Linked DNA regions of Homo sapiens: region 2 is linked to region 1. A link means that fine-mapping ties the variant in region 1 to the expression of a gene that starts in the linked region. Tissue or cell type: whole blood. Region 1 holds a variant in brackets; the other region holds the start of a gene. All regions are shown on one strand. Distances are between the middles of the regions. Region 1 overlaps RAB2A (RAB2A, member RAS oncogene family). Region 2 holds the start of RAB2A (RAB2A, member RAS oncogene family).

Evidence for each region.
Region 2: it holds the start of RAB2A, and the variant in region 1 is fine-mapped to the expression of RAB2A in whole blood (INTERVAL, PIP above 0.99).

The regions. Positions count from the first base shown.
Region 1 is chr8:60,545,792-60,554,124 of GRCh38, reverse strand. The region is part of intron 1 of RAB2A (RAB2A, member RAS oncogene family); the gene reads right to left. Among named protein-coding and RNA genes, the nearest start is that of RAB2A, 33 kb to the right of the region's middle. The variant T/C (reference allele first, on the strand shown) is at 4,143.
Region 2 is chr8:60,512,815-60,521,147 of GRCh38, reverse strand. RAB2A (RAB2A, member RAS oncogene family) reads right to left here and starts at 4,161. Exons shown (of 8, transcript NM_002865.3): 1 at 3,895-4,161. The coding sequence starts at 3,940. It overlaps LOC124901949 (a long non-coding RNA gene), which reads right to left. Exons shown (of 3, transcript XR_007060922.1): 3 at 4,350-7,456. RefSeq lists enhancers at 2,728-2,917, 4,153-5,013 and a silencer at 3,708-4,577.

The DNA of each region.
Region 1 (8,333 bases):
CTGACTAAAATATAAAAATTCAAGCTCTTCAAAACAGTACACAAGGTTCTTTTTGAGCTGAAAATTATTACTCTAAGAGATTAATACTATGACAATACAGTGTAAAGACTCTATAGTTAGCAACAACAAACCATTGTCCCCTGAAATGATATCATATCTTTTTGCTGGTACCTTTTATAAAGGAACTTTTCACTCCCTGGCAAATTTAAATTCATGCTTTAAGACAACTCAAAGCTTCATATACCCTCTTTGGTAGAACATTCCTGTTCCAAAGATTCTACCAATCCCCAAGCAAAACTAATGGTTTAGCCCCCACAATCATATACGCCAATGAATGAATCAATTTCAGCCTTGGGCTCCCATAATACTTTATATATGCCTCAAAACCCTGATTAGAATCCCAGCTCTGTCACTTATTAGCTGTAACACAGGGTACTTGACCTTTCTGAGCCTTAGAATCCTTATCTATAAAATGGAGGAAATCTCTACACCTCAATGAACTGTTATAAGAAGCAAATTAAATATATAGATACAAAAGGGACCCTGTACAGTACTGGTTACCTGAGTGTGTCCAGTTTATAACAATTATTTGAGCTATACACTTAGTATATATGCATTTTTCTGTGTGCATAATATACTTCAATAAAAATGAAAACAAAATGACGGTCTTTTTGATGCATCAGTTTGGCTAGGCCCTACCCTAGTTATGCAATCAAACACTAATCTAGGCGTTGCTGTGAAGGCATCATACAAGTAATAAAAATCCATAATCAGCTGACTTTAAGTGCGACAGGGGCTTCCTAGAGAGAAGAAATAATTCCACCTGTGGACAGCAACTTTAGCCATACCTGTGGGTTACAGCCTGTCCTGAGGATTTCAGACTTGCTTGTCCAGCCCCCAAAATCACATAAACCAAATAAACAATCAATTTCAATTTCAACTCCCATCTCTATCTATCTAATCACATGCACACATATATCCTGCTGGTTCTGCTTCTCCAGTTGGATGCTGACTTTTTTCCCTTTTTCTTTTTTCAACGCCTATCTTATTATCCCAGATACTGAATCTCACAAACAACCATCACCTCTCAAAAAGCACAGTGTGTAGAACAGGAAGGCCCTCAAATAAAGCTATTATTTTTATTAATTGTATCATGCTTTATAGGCTCTCCCATAACAGAACGTGACCCCCAGCTCTATTAGGACAGAAATCACTTGCAAGAGTGTGTCCCTAGCACACAGCAGGTACAAAGCAAGCCTCTGTCTGTCCTCATACCCTTCTTACTAGAAAACTTGTCTAAATTGTTGACTGATAAGAGAGAGAAAATTTGCATATACAGCTAATTCTGAATTTTCCTCACTACCTTTAGAAGATGGGAGGGGTTTAACCAACTGTGTAACTTTCCATATATTATTTCATCTTTTTGGACATAATTTTACTATATGTACAGAGAATCAGAGAATTGAGCCAGACAATCATCAAGTTTCTTTCTAACTCTACTAATTGGCCTTGATGATTTATTATTTAGAGCTTTAAAATTTTAATAACGTTTTCTTTTCATGGATAAATTTAACATCTGAGTATCTGTTTAGAAATGTAAAACAATGAATCCATCATATCACAAAGTATAGTAATACGAAGAAAATATAGAGAATTTTTTTCCCTATAACTTATAAAAGTGATAGGTCACTGAGCATGGTGGCTCACACCTGTAATCCCAGCACTTTAGGAGGCTGAGGCAGGAGGATCACTTGAGGCCAGGAGTTCTAGACCAGCCTGGGTAACATAGTGAGACCCCATAGGTATAAAAAAATTTAAAAATTAGGCCGGGCGTGGTGGCTCATACCTGTAATCCCAGCACTTTGAGAGGCCGAGGCGGGTGGATCACGAGGTCAGGAGTTCAAGACCAGCCTGGCCAACATGGTGAAACCCTATCTCTACTAAAAATACAGAAAGTAGCTGGATGTGGTGGCAGGCACCTGTAATCCCAGTTACTAGGAGGCTGAGGCAGGAGAATCGCTTGAACCCAGTAGGCGGAGGTTGCAGTGAGCCGAAATTGCGCCACTGCGTGCCAGCCTGGGCAACAAAAGCGAAACTCCATCTTAAAAAAAAAAAAAAAAAAACTCCCAGCTACTCAAGAGGCTGAGGCATGAGAATTGCTTAAACCCGAGAAGTGGAAGCTGCAGTGAGCCGAGATCGTGCCACTGAACTCCAGTCTGGGCGACACAGCAAGGCTCTGTCTCCAAAAAAAAAAAAAAAAAAAAAAAATCAAGGCATGGTAGCACATCTTGTAGTCCTAGCTACTCAAGAGGCTAAGGACAGAGGATTGCTTGAACCTAGGAGTTTGAGGTTGCAGTGAGCTATGACTGAGCCATTGTATTCGAGCCTGAGTGACAAGCAAGACCCTGTCTCTAAAATAAAATAAAAATAGTAAAAATAAAAGATCAAAATCTGAAATACAGTTTCTACTGAATGTCACTTTTGCACCACTGTAAAGTTGAAAAATTGCTAAGTCAAACCATCAAAAGACAGAGACCATCTGTAGTTATCTTTTTAGTGCCTCAGTTTCCTAACCTGTAAGAAGTAGGTTAATAACACCTATCTAATAGGATACTTGAGAACATTAAATAAGTTAATCCACTGTAAGTCTTAAAACAGTGTCTGGCACATAGTAAAGTTTCAAAAAAGAATTCAACAAATGTTTGTTGCTACCATCAATAGTAAAACACTATTACTATGTCTGTTTACACTTTAAGCTCCCTAAAAGCATGAACCATGATCCATTCATTTTCAGCATTAGCCACATGTATCTCCAGTGCAAAGACAAAGGCTCACAAACTTGTGGAATGGGATGAAAGACTATAAACTTGTTTTTTCCCAACATGTGTGCACAAATGTGTACATGTATACAGAAGAGGGAGAGAAATAGAATCAGTTGCAGGGTGTTAAATGCTATGGTAAAAAGAAAAAGCAGAGCAGGGCAAGGATGTAGGACCTGAAACGCTGGGGTGGAGGGAAGGAGGAAGATGTGTTATTTAACCAGGTAGTCCCTCATGGAGAAGGTGAGATTTAAATGAAGGTTTAAAGGAGGTGAGGAAATAGGCCAGTGGATCACTGAGAGAAGAGTATTATTCCACACCAAGGAAACAGTTAAGAAGAAAAGTTCTAAGGTGGCACATTTTAGAGAAACTGCAATGAGGCCAATGTGGCTAAAGCACAGGAGGCAGGGAGAGTCATGCCCCTAGGAACTAGGATATAGGAATGACAGGGGCCTAATCACACAGAACCTAAAGAACTCTGTAAGTTTATTGAGATAAAATAGGGGATTCACTGGAGAGTTTTCAGCAGAGAAGTAATATAATTTTACTTAAATTCCAAAAGGCCTACTGGCTGCTACAATGAGAACTTACAAGTAGAAGCAGATGAGAGTAGAAGCAAAGAAGGCAGGTGTGGTGGCTCATGCCTTCCCTAGCACTTTGGGAGGCCAAGGTAGGTGGACTACTTGAGCCCAGGAGTTCAAGACCAGCCTGGACTACATGGTGAAACCCTGTCTCTACAAAAAAAATACAAAAAACTTAGCCAGGCATGGTGGTGCACACCTTAGTCCCAGTTACATGGGGGCTGAGGTGGGAGGATCGCTTGAACCTGGGAGGTGGAGGTTGCAGCGAGCCGAGATCACACCACTGCACTTCAGCCTGGATGATGGAGTGAGACCCTGCCTCAAAAAAAAAAAAGACAAAAAAAACCGTGAACCAGTAAGGAGCTTTCTCAATAAGGCTAGAAATGGTGACTTGGACCAGGGTGGTTGCATTGGGGGTAGTTCAAATTGAATTTGTGAGGCAGAGCCAAGAGAATGTGTTGACAGTGTGAATTTTTTGAGAAAGAGAAGTGTGTTAAGAATGATCCAATGTTTTGCCTGATCAAACAGAAAGTTCAGTGAGATGGGAGATGTAGGTAGAGCAGATTGAGAGTGGACAGATCATCAGTTCCAGTTTGGTTATTTTGAGTTGAGATGTCTATTAGTCACCCAAGAGACAAAGCTGAGTAGACAAGTGAATATGTGAGTACAGATTTCAAGAAAGACATTCAGGATGAAGATAAGCCACATGTAAAGAGGAATCAGCAAAAAAAAGACTGAGACA[T/C]AGCCCATGTTTGTTATTTAATCACAGAATTAAACAGAATGAGAACAAACAAAAATGGCTTTTGAGTAAAGGCTGGCAAATTCCAAAACTTTTTTTTTTTTTCAAAAGGAGGACGAATAGAAAGCCTGGATTTAAATCTTTACCAAAAAACAACTTCTAGAAAGGAATCCCCTATAAACAGTTATTTTTGTTATTGTTGCTACTTTTCCAACAGAAATGGAAAATTAAAGAAAAAGCAACTATCTACTCTTTTAAAAAAATTTATGCTGGGATCTCTGATAAAAACCCAATTTGAAATGGGGGGAAAAAACTATCTCCTGCCAATGGCTTTCATTCTGCACCAAGAACAAGGCCTGTGCACATCCTCCCCCTTTCTCTCCACGTAGACAGACACTCCACATTACAGATGCCGTCCTTTGCCATTCCATGTGAAGTAGCTCCAATCCCCAATCATTTTCTATCCATTAGTAGTTTTCAATCCACACCAAAAAAAAAAAAAAAAAGGTTGGTGGAGACGGGGTTTCGCTGTGTTGGCCGGGCTGGTCTCCAGCTCCTAACCGCGAGTGATCCGCCAGCCTCGGCCTCCCGAGGTGCTGGGATTGCAGACGGAGTCTCGTTCACTCAGTGCTCAATGGTGCCCAGGCTGGAGTGCAGTGGCGTGATCTCGGCTCGCTACAACCTCCACCTCCCAGCAGCCTGCCTTGGCCTCCCAAAGTGCCAAGATTGCAGCCTCTGCCCGGCCGCCACCCCGTCTGGGAAGTGAGGAGCGTCTCCGCCTGGCCGCCCATCGTCTGGGATGTGAGGAGCCCCTCTGCCTGGCTGCCCAGTCTGGAAAGTGAGGAGCGTCTCTGCCCGGCCGCCATCCCATCTAGGAAGTGAGGAGCGCCTCTTCCCGGCCGCCATCACATCTGGGAAGTGAGGAGCGTCTCTGCCCGGCCGCCCATCGTCTGAGATGTGGGGAGCACCTCTGCCCTGCCGCCCCGTCCGGGATGTGAGGAGCGTCTCTGCCCTGCCGCCCCGTCTGAGAAGTGAGGAGACCCTCTGCCTGGCAACTGCCCTGTCTGAGAAGTGAGGAGCCCCTCTGCCCGGCAGCCACCCTGTCTGAGAAGTGAGGAGCGTCTCTGCCCGGCAGCCACCTCGTCCGGGAGGGAGGTGGGGGGGTCAGCCCCCCGCCCGGCCAGCCGCCCCGTCTGGGAGGGAGGTGGGGGGATCAGCCCCCCGCCCGGCCAGCCGCCCCATCCGGCAGGTGAGGGGTGCCTCTGCCCGGCTGCCCCTACTGGGAAGTGAGGAGCCCCTCTGCCCGGCCAGCCACTCCGTCCGGGAGGGAGGTGGGGGGGTCAGCCCCCCGCTCGGCCAGCCGCCCCATCCGGGAAGTGAGGGGCGCCTCTGCCTGGCCGCCCCTGCTGGGAAGTGAGGATCCCCTCTGCCCGGCCAGCCGCCCCGTCCGGGAGGGAGGTGGGGGGGTCAGCCCCCCGCCCGGCCAGCCGCCCCGTCCGGGAAGTGAGGGGCGCCTCTGCCCGGCCGCCCCTACTGGGAAGTGAGGAGCCACTCTGCCCGGCCAGCCGCCCCGTCCGGGAGGGAGGTGGGGGGATCAGCCCCCCGCCCGGCCAGCCGCCCCATCCGGGAAGTGAGGGGCGCCTCTGCCCGGCCGCCCCTGCTGGGAAGTGAGGAGCCACTCTGCCCGGCCAGCCGCCCCGTCCGGGAGGGAGGTGGGGGGGTCAGCCCCCCGCCCGGCCAGCCGCCCCGTCCGGGAAGTGAGGGGCGCCTCTGCCCGGCCGCCCCTACTGGGAAGTGAGGAGCCACTCTGCCTGGCCAGCCGCCCCGTCCGGGAGGGAGGTGGGGGGATCAGCCCCCCGCCCGGCCAGCCGCCCCATCCGGGAAGTGAGGGGCGCCTCTGCCCGGCCGCCCCTGCTGGGAAGTGAGGAGCCACTCTGCCCGGCCAGCCGCCCCGTCCGGGAGGGAGGTGGGGGGGTCAGCCCCCCGCCCGGCCAGCCGCCCCGTCCGGGAAGTGAGGGGCGCCTCTGCCCGGCCGCCCCTACTGGGAAGTGAGGAGCCACTCTGCCCGGCCAGCCGCCCCGTCCGGGAGGGAGGTAGGGGGGTCAGCCCCCCGCCCGGCCAGCCGCCCCGTCCAGGAGGGAGGTGGGGGGGTCAGCCCCCCGCCCGGCCAGCCGCCCCATCCGGGAAGTGAGGGGCGCCTCTGCCCGGCCGCCCCTGCTGGGAAGTGAGGAGCCACTCTGCCTGGCCAGCCGCCCCGTCCGGGAGGGAGGTGGGGGGGTCAGCCCCCCCGCCCGGCCAGCCGCCCCGTCCGGGAGGGAGGTGGGGGGGTCAGCCCCCCGCCTGGCCAGCCGCCCCGTCCGGGAGGTGAGGGGCGCCTCTGCCCGGCCGCCCCTACTGGGAAGTGAGGAGCCCCTCTGCCCAGCCAGCCGCCCCATCCAGGAGGGAGGTGGGGGGAGTCAGCCCCCCGTCCGGCCAGCTGCCCTGTCCGGGAGGTGAGGGGCGCCTCTGCCCGGCCGCGCCTACTGGGAAGTGAGGAGCCCCTCTGCCCGGCCACCACCCCGTCTGGGAGGTATAGCCAACAGCTCATTGAGAACGGGCCATGATGACAATGGCGGTTTTGTGGAATAGAAAGGGGGGAAAGGTGGGGAAAAGATTGAGAAATCGGATGGTTGCCATGTCTGTGTAGAAAGAGGTAGACAGGGGAGACTTTTCCTTTTGTTCTGTACTAAGAAAAATTCTTCTGCCTTGGGATCCTGTTGATCGGTGACCTTACCCCCAACCCTGTGTTCTCTGAAACATGTGCTGTATCCACTCAGGGTTGAATGGATTAAGGGCGGTGCAAGATGTGCTTTGTTAAACAGATGCTTGAAGGCAGCATGCTCCTTAAGAGTCATCACCACTCCCTAATCTCAAGTACCCAGGGACACAAACACTGCGGAAGGCCGCAGGGTCCTCTGCCTAGGAAAACCAGAGACCTTTGTTCACTTGTTTATCTGCTGACCTTCCCTCCACTATTGTCCTGTGACCCTGCCAAATCCCCCTCTGCGAGAAACACCCAAGAATGATCAATAAAAAAAAAAAAAAAAAAAAAAAAGACCCAAAAAACAAAAACAAAAAGCAACCCAAACTGATGCTCAGGCCTCACACCTCCAGAGATGCTGATTGAACTGTCAGCATTGTGTAGTGGTTAAAAGCACTACCTGGGTGATTTTGGAAAAACTACTTGGCCTTTGCACGCAATCATTTTCAAAATGAGGATAAGAACAATACATACTTCACAACAAGAGTTGTGAGAATTAAACCAGTTAACCTATATAAAGCACTGAAAACATGTAGGAAGCACTATGTAAAAACTTAACAGTATTATTATTTAATTAAACAAACAAAGACAAAAATCCAACATGGATCACTTCTTCACTTGAAGTTTCCTCTAGATGTCCATGTAGTTTATCCTTTCTTTAATGCTAGAGAAGTACTATATTCCTTTACCAACCAAAACTAGATCTCAGCCCTCTCTCCCTGTTTGGAGATCTAGCAACTCGTTTTTCTTGCATCTTTATTACCTGCTTCTCCATGGACATCTTTTGACACATGCATTCAAGTCTCCCATCCTCGAACACACTCAAGAGAAGGTTGGTCAAGTCTTGCACCTCAAATTTTCTCAGCTATCGCAAGTAGGAAATATCACTAACTAGAATCTTAAACCTGATAGGTTTGAGAAGGCTTAAGAAAAAAGAAAAAGTCCAACACAAAGAATTACCCTGAGACTTTGGAGAGTTATTTACTTGTTTTCCTAAACAAACAGAAAGCCATGCACACCCTCCACCTCTTCTAGTATTTCTCTGGATGTGATCTTTCCCTTAATGGACTTCAGAATATGTTATCTCTGAAATGACAATTACTATGTACTAACTTTTATCTTACACTACAGTTATTTAAATGCCTGTTTTTACAACATTTATAAACAAAGTTCTTTCAGGGCAAGATCTGTATTCCTATTCATCTTTTCATCCTCCAAAGCACCTAGAATGATCTGTTGAGCTAGTATTCATGAAATATTTAATGAAAAATGAATAATTTAATAATTTAATGAATAATGAATATTTGTTTAATGAATAATGAATTTGTTTAATGAATATTTGTTTAATGATGTGCAAAACATTGTTTTTTAAGGCCTGGTGTGGATATCTTGGA
Region 2 (8,333 bases), 33 kb after region 1:
CCTAACTAAAAAGATAATTTAAAATGCAAGTGGGGCTGAGAGCTGTGGCTTGTGCTTGTAATCTGGCACTTTGGGAGGCTGAAGTGGGAGGATGGCTTAAGCCCAGGAGTTTGAGACCAGCCTGAGCAACACAGTGAGAGCCCATCTCTACAAAAATTTAAAAATTAGCCAGGCATGGTGGCATGTGCCTGTGTTCCCAGCTACTTGGAAGACTTAGGTGGGAGGATTGCTTAGGCCCAGGAGACTGAAGCTGTAGTGAGTGAGCCGTGATAGTGCCACTGCACTCCTGCCTGGGCAACAGAGATCATGTCTCAATAGATAGATAAATAATATAAGTAAAATAAAATAAAATGGAAGTGGTGGGTATATACATAAGAGTGAAAAATAAAAAATAAAATGTAAGTGGGACTGGGACTGAAGAGAAGGGAAACAGAATGAGGGAAGAGAGGAGGGGACCAGCATAAAATGCAACAGGGAGTGGTAGGATTTGTTAAACTCTCAAAAGAATGGATAAAAAGGAGTTGGCCAGGTGACAAAAATTTTTGACATAACTTTTTTTGATAGGGAAGAACAAGAAGGAGTGCTTCAGATATTAGCAGAAATAAGAACACAACCAAACCTGTGCCTTTGTTTACCTTGCTGAGCGTTGAGCAGCAGGGAGGGTTAGTGATAAGGTTAAAATGGTTGGCAGATGCTAGAATTTCAGAAGAAAAATTACTATAGATTCGTATTTTTTCTCTCCATGCTTGATAATTAACTGCTTATTAAAAACCACTTTCCACTTTACATCTAGATTTAAATGACACATTTTACTAAATGATTCAGAAACAAGACAGGAACAAGGAAAAAATTTAAAGCTACATTTTAACTGCATTTAGTCTTACAGTAAGAAAACAGCTCAATAGTATCATCATGATCATGTAAAAGTTTTTAAAACCTCTTCTATTAAAGAGGGAATTCTGAAAAGGAAAAATGTGCATTGTTCCTTTCCTTTGAGAAATCAAAGTACTTTCACATTTATCCTCATTTTATCCCACATACTGAGAGAAGGTTATAGGTTACGGAAACAGGGAAACAGAAAAATTAGGTGATTTCCTTCATTCTAAGATGCATGTTTTTGACCCTGACTTTTTAAAAAATCAAAGTGGATCTCACATTACTGATTTTAAAGTCATCTTTTCTAGGGGAGGGCCACACTGAGTGTATCTTACAACTATGGGTACACTCTGCATTAAAGAAATATGGTAAAGGATTTTGCCCAAATTAGTAAGCAAGAAGGTGGCAGAACTGGGCAACAACAACAACAACAACGACACCACTTCTGTTAAGTTATTAATATATACAAACAGGAATATAGTAGCCTGTTTGGCTCCTCTCTTATTAGTTAAATATACAGGGCCTACCTTCTACTACGCTCTTCCTGAAAGAAATACAGAGCCATACAAAACATCTTTTCTGACTTCAAGAAGTATATAATAGGTACCTACATAATAGAGGTGCCTATACAAGTATCTATACAACAGAAAAGTCTGGGATCAATATCAGAAGAATGACACAAAGTGAGAAACATAAATTCAGAAACGGAGTAGTCACTTTCAGCCAGGATACTGTGAAAATCTTCACACAATAAGAGCTTAATATATGTTGACTGTGAAGGCATTACGGAAAACTCAGATAAGACTTTGAAGGACTGATGGATCTTCCACAGGGAGAGATTGTGCCGGAAAGCACTCTAAGAATAGAGACTAGCAGTGCCCAGGAAAAAAACACCAAAATCAGTCACTGGGACTCAATGGCAGAAGCAAGGTGGGGAATAGCGGGAAAGAAGGCGAGAAATGTAGATAGGGGCTAAAATATAGAGTTCACTGAAGGTCAAACTAAAAATTGTGAGCAAACAGGAGTAGCCTTTTGACATTCATGCTTCAGGATGACTAAACTGACAGTAAACTACACTGGCTGAACTGGAGTAGGGAGAAGTACTGCTGCAGACTATAACAGTGTCAAGAATTCTGTTCCTGAACTAGGTCGTATCAGCAGCAATGACAAGAAAGAAGTGTCTTCCCTTTGAATTGCGTGGGGACTGCTTTTGGATAAGAGCAAATTCCAAGAGAACAGAGCATTAACTTGTTAGGATTTGTAGCCCCACTACTCCATGCACAATACTTTATTTATCCACAGTACAGCCTCAAATAAAAAACTGAAAAAAGGCAACCAGCAAAGTCTGATTTGAATTTTCACCACTAATGAGATAGCCAAATGCCACAGTCACAAGCTTCTATTTCTCAAACCCACTCATATTACAGTTAATGTGGCATTCCTCTCCAATCTTGTTTTTACAGCCTAAATGAAATTTTGCCAGAAGACTTTAGAATTCTCCTTCTTCCAAATACACCACAGCATTTTTCTTTTAAAGTTTACAAATCCAATTTCCACACACACACACACGCACGCACGCATCAGAAAACCTTGCTGAAAACTCATGTATCTAGCAGAAATTTTTTCTTTCAGGCAGCAATAAATATGCTTTTTTTTTTTTTTTTTTTTTTTTTTTGCAAACTCCACCTTCCGGGCTCAAGTGATCCTCCCGCCTCAGCCTCCCAAGTGGCTGGGATTACAGGCGCCTGCCACGACGCCCGGCTAACTTTTGTACTTTTAGTAGAGACGGGGTTTCACCACGTTGGCCAAGCAGGTCTCGAACTCCTGATCTCAGGTGATCCCCCACCTCGGCCTCCGAAAGTGCTGGGATTACAGGTGTGAGCCACCGCGTCCGGCCAACATGCTTCTTTAGTTACTTATAGAACCTGCCACATCATTAGTTCAACTACAAACTGCTGCTTACATGACCGAAGTTGTGCAAAGGGTCCAAAGTTGTGCAAGAGTAACCACTGAAATCAGACTCTGGTATATTAATAGTTGCAACATCTAAACAATCTTTATGTTTATTATTAGATTCAAAGTAATGCCAAATCACAGGTATTAAAAATATCTACGAAGAGTCTGTTTACTTTTCTGTGAAATATACTAGGACGTCATTTTAAGTGAGAATAACTGAATTTCTTTCAGCTCATGGACATGAGCTCACCTGAAAATTAGCAGTTGTGACACCGGACTTGACATATCTAAAACATCAGCGTCCTCAACATACACATACCTAAGTACACACCCAGAGCACTGAACGACTTTACATTACTATATAACCCCAGTTCACACGTGGCAAAAGTCCACAGAACTCGTTCATGCTTTCCTAACCCCGAAAGGGATTCTCCAGCCGTCAAGTAATGAGATGTGACTTATTCTGACGTGAGAGTTGAAGGTGTTAAAAAAGCATATTTTATATATATGTATATATATAAAATACATATTTTAAAGGTTTCCTTTTCTCTTTCTCGGCTGCCTGTCCCACGCCAAAAAGCGCCTTGCCCAGGCCTTGATAGATGCGTGCTGGTGGAGGAAGGTTGGACTGGTCAGGAACCAAGACCCGGGCCCCAACACCTTCTGCTCCCCTAGGTTTCCCTCCTTCTTTTTCCTGGGGCCGCGAAGAGACCTAACGCAAGGGGCCCTGGGGGTGGGGTGCAGTCATGTGAGTCGGGCCCCGGCGGCCCTGCGCTAGGCCTCCCCTCCTGTCACACACTTCCTGAATCGGGCGTCGCAAACGGCTGCCACGGCCCTCAGCTGCAAGACTGGCCGGGTCGGGGGCCGCAGACCGGGCCTGGCCAGGCCGCGGCCGCTCGCAGTGCCCACGTCACCAGCTCCAGCACTGCGGAAATGGAGCGGCGCGGCCAGGAGGGAGGCGCCGGGTGGAGTCCGCGTCCCCGCCACCGCCAGACGCCGTTTGCCCCTCAGCCCGGGTCCGGAGGCCGCCGACACCCGCCCGGCCGCGCCCGGGGCCCTCACCTGTGTCGCCGATTATGATGTACTTGAAGAGATAGGCGTACGCCATGGCCGCGGCCGCTCAGTGCCAGGGCACACGGCTCCTCCTCCCGCTGCTGCTCCTCCTCCGCGCCCCAACCCCGGTGCCGCTCAGCCTCGAAACGCCAGGCGCCGCCCGCCGCCGCCGCTGCTGCTGTCAGCCGCCGGGAGTGAGGGGCTGTGAGGAAGCCGGACGAACTGACACCCGCAGAGCCGAGGGAGACAGCGCCCGACCGAGCCCAGCCGAACAATAACAGCCGCCGCGGCGCCTCCGCCCCGCCTCCGCGCCGACCCGGAAGTTCTGCGGCCGCCGGCGCCGCCGGAGGAAAGGGGAGGAGCCCCGCACGCTGGCCCAGCCCTGCACGCTGGCCGCGCCCCGCCAGCCGGAGCCCCGCCCCGCCCCGCCCCGCGCCTGCCTTGCCCGGTCCGCCCTGTCTTCCAGCAGGGCGGGGCCCGGCTCCGGTTGTTCCGCCACGTTTGAGCGGGCGAGCCCGGCGGCCGGGAGACGCCAGGGAACGGGGCTGGTGGGGGTACAAAGGCTCGGTTCCGTCGCCTTCAGCCCTGCGGTGGGGGCACGGGGCAAGTGAGGGGACGGCAGAGGCGGCGTTCGGTGTGAGGCTGCGCCCTGGGCTCCTGAAAATGTGTGTGAAAATGTGGGAGGCACACGGCGAGGGGGTGGGGGTGGCCTGGTATTTCTGTGTTTGGCATCGGGGCTTGAAGGTGAAAATGGCAGTATTTATAAATTGGAAACCGTAAATCTGGGACTGCAAAGTAAATCATGGTATGCACGCACAGTGGAGTACTACGTTGCTCTCACCTGAGGTCAGGAGTTCGAGACCAGCCTGGCCAACATGGCGAAACCGCGTCTCTACTAAAAATACATTAGCCGGGCGTGGTGGTGCTCGCCTGTAATCCCAGCTACTCGGAGTCTAAGGCAGGAGAATCACTTGAACCTGGGAGGTGGAGGTTGTAGTGAGCCGAGATTGAACCACGGCACTCCAGACTGGGCGACAGAGCGGGACTCCGTCTCAAAATAATAATAGTAAATAAAAAATAAATAAAGTCTCTGAACCTGTCCTGGTTCTGAGGGCTGCTCTAAAAAAAAAAAAAAAAAAAAAGCCTGACTTAGGTTAAGCAAAACCGAGATGATCTGTTTATGTGTGTGTATATAACATGCACCATATGTAATATATGAATTGTATATAATTTTTATGTGTAACAAATAGTGGGAAAACATTTACATACCCATATATGCATAATCAATCTGAAAGGAAAGCTAACTGGTATTAAGAGAAAGGAGGGAATGGGATTGGGGGGAAAATGTACTTTTCCCTGAATTTTTTTGTGCAGTTTGACATTTTTTGCAGTGTTCATGAGTTACCTATTAGGAAATACTGTTAAAGGAAAAAACAAAATGACTGTGCATTCAAAGAATAGTTATTGAATACTATGTTTCATGTACCGCCAGGCACAGCAACTGGAGGCCCTGTATGTTCTATGTTCTGTTTTTCTACTTTGCTTTTTCAGTCATCCAGCCCAAAATGTCACCACTCTGTTCAAAAAGACCACAGGTTATGGAAGAGGAGGTGGAGAATAGGGTGTCAGGAAAGGTTACTTAGAGATTATGATTTCTGAGCCAGGAATATGAATTATGTATAGAGTTTGTCGAAAGAACAACAGTTTGGGGAGGGGAACCAAAGTTTATGGACAAGGAACAGAATGTGCAAAATTCCTGGATCTGTTCAGGGAATTTGAAGTTGCATAAGGAAGCTAATTGACTAACTCATATCCTCATAACCCATAACCTCATATTGAAGGAGAATCATTGCTGGGGAAAAGCGATTGGGATTTAGTGGCCCTCGTTCCTGTTGCCTAATACTCTTCTCTTTGGGGCCTCTCATTATGTAATTAGTACTGACACCATCATGCTGGGTTGCTAACATGCTTTGGATGGCCTTGCCAAATATGAACTCACAAGGTTTTTCTGGAATATTTGGAGGGGATTTTACTAAAGGGTCAGAGATGGCACGGAAGAATTTGACATGAAAATTTGACATGAAAAGCTACCTGGAATCGCAAAATTTGGTTCATTCACCTTTAGTTTGAGGAAGGGGAGGTCCCTGCCCAAGGCCTCCAGTTTTCAGATGTCATTTTGTCCCTCCCACTTGAGTGCCTTCACCCAAGTCTTCCTTGGTGATGGAGAAACTCAAGTCTTCACTCTCACAAGATAGAGGGATGTGGCCTTCCTTCACCAGCACAACTCTATTAGGATGTTATACAAATGCCTGGCATCCTAGGAGTCAGGAGTATTCCTACACTGTTAGAGGAGGAGAGTACCTGGAGAGGTCTCTTGTGCCAGGTTATGTAGGGCCTTGTATGTTATGTCACCATGCATTTAGAACTTTACTTAGTAGACAAAGGAAATTGTGACAGGAAATGGTCAGAACTGGGTATGTAACAAAAATCATAGAAATGGATATAAAGCTATAGAGGCAATGTGTTATAAGGAAAATAGGATACCTGGCTTCTGGTCTTGGCTCTACCTGTAACTGATCGGATGAATGTGAGGAATCGTTTGGCCTCTTAAAGCTTCAGAGCACAGGTTGCGATGGCTTGTGCCTGCGGTCCCAGCTACTTGGGAGGCTGAAGAGGGAGGATAGCTTGAGCCAAGCAGTTTGAGGCAGCAGTGAGCTAGGATGGTGCGACTGCACTCCAGCTTGGGCTATAGATTGAGACCTTGTGTCTTAATAAATAAAATAATTATTAAAATAAAAATAATTTAAAAAATTATGAGTGGTTCAGTGCACTTGTCTATTAAGTAAAGGAGTTAAGTGTTTCTTAAAAGGGCTATTCCAAGCATGACGTCTTTTAATTTTATGCTTAGCCAGCCTCCAAATCTAAAGCCATCTGTAAAGAAGGTAGTAATCCTCTCGTGAAAATGCAGGGGCCATAGATGTCAAATGCATATTGTTCTGATTGATTGATTGATTGATTGAGAGGAGGTCTTGCTCTGTCATCTAGGCTGGAGTACAGTGACCCAGTCATGGCTTACTGCTGTCTTGACTTCCTGGGCTCAGGTGATTGTCCTGCCTCAGCCTCCTGAGTAGCTGGGATCACAGGCACATGCCACCACGCCTATATCATTTATTATTATTATTATTATTTGGAGAGATGGAGACTCCCTCTGTTACTCAGGCTGGTCTTGAACTACTGGCCTCAAGCAATTCTCCCACCTTGAAGAACAGGATTTTCAAGTTCTTCTCTGGGCTTCAGTTTCCTTATTTGGAATATGTGGATAATAACTGCTTAACAAAGTCCATTTAGGATCAAATGAGATAATGTATGTGAAAATACTGTGTAAATTATGAAAAATGTATACCTAATACATAAAACTCTTTGCACTGCATAATTTTTGGAAATTACTTGAGGGGCTGAGTGCGGTGGCTCATGCATGTAATTCCAACACTTTGGGAGGCAAAGTCTGGAGGATCCCTTGAGCCTTGGAGTTCAAGAAGATCAGCATGGGTTACATGGTGAGATCCTGTCTCTACAGAAAATTAAAAAGAAAAAAAAGAAATTAACTTGAGGAACTAAAGGCCTAATCACTATATAAATTCATGGTTTAAAATTAAGTTTGTTCCTGGCTCTATTTTATGTCTCTACCTTTTTTCCTATGTATGATTCATAATATTTTGTTATATTTTCTATAAACCTATAATCTCTTAAATCTTCGAAAAAATACAGGGTATAAATAAAAATCACATAAACCTCATTTAAAACATTTTCTTTAGCCCATAAAAATCCAAACATATTTTTCAAGAAAAGTCCCCCAGACAAAATAACAGAAATAAACCTCTCTTCCATTAAATATAGTATACTTCCTGGAATTTTCCATTCAGTTTGATTTTCGGCTATTTTCAGTCTCTTAGGATGTGTTGTGGTAACTCTGTCTCTCAGCCTTACATCATATATGGTCTGAAGGTCATAACTGTGAAATTTCAAGATTGTAGCACTACATTCTTCAGTGTCTCCTAATCAAGTTCTCCATGACATTTTTGAGTACAATACTATATTAGAAGTTTGCATTTGCTTCTCCCAACTAAACTTTCATGTTTATATTTTCTTTGGTTTTAATTACTCTCAGGCTTTGGGAAGAGGGATAGGGTGGAGTGGAATGGGAGAAGGTGGTTGGGAATACTGTAATCTTGAGGTTTTTGCCTTGGTTTCCATGGTTCCTTAGCCACTCCTTCTGAAATGGTATGCAAAACTGATAATGATGTATATATTTGCACATGTACACTTTTATGGGAGAGATTCTTCCATGACCCAGAAATAATTAAGAACAATTGTGAAATGCCTTCCTTCAGCCATCTCCAAGTACCATAACAGAACTAATTTTCCAGCAAATACTTAAACTCAGTACC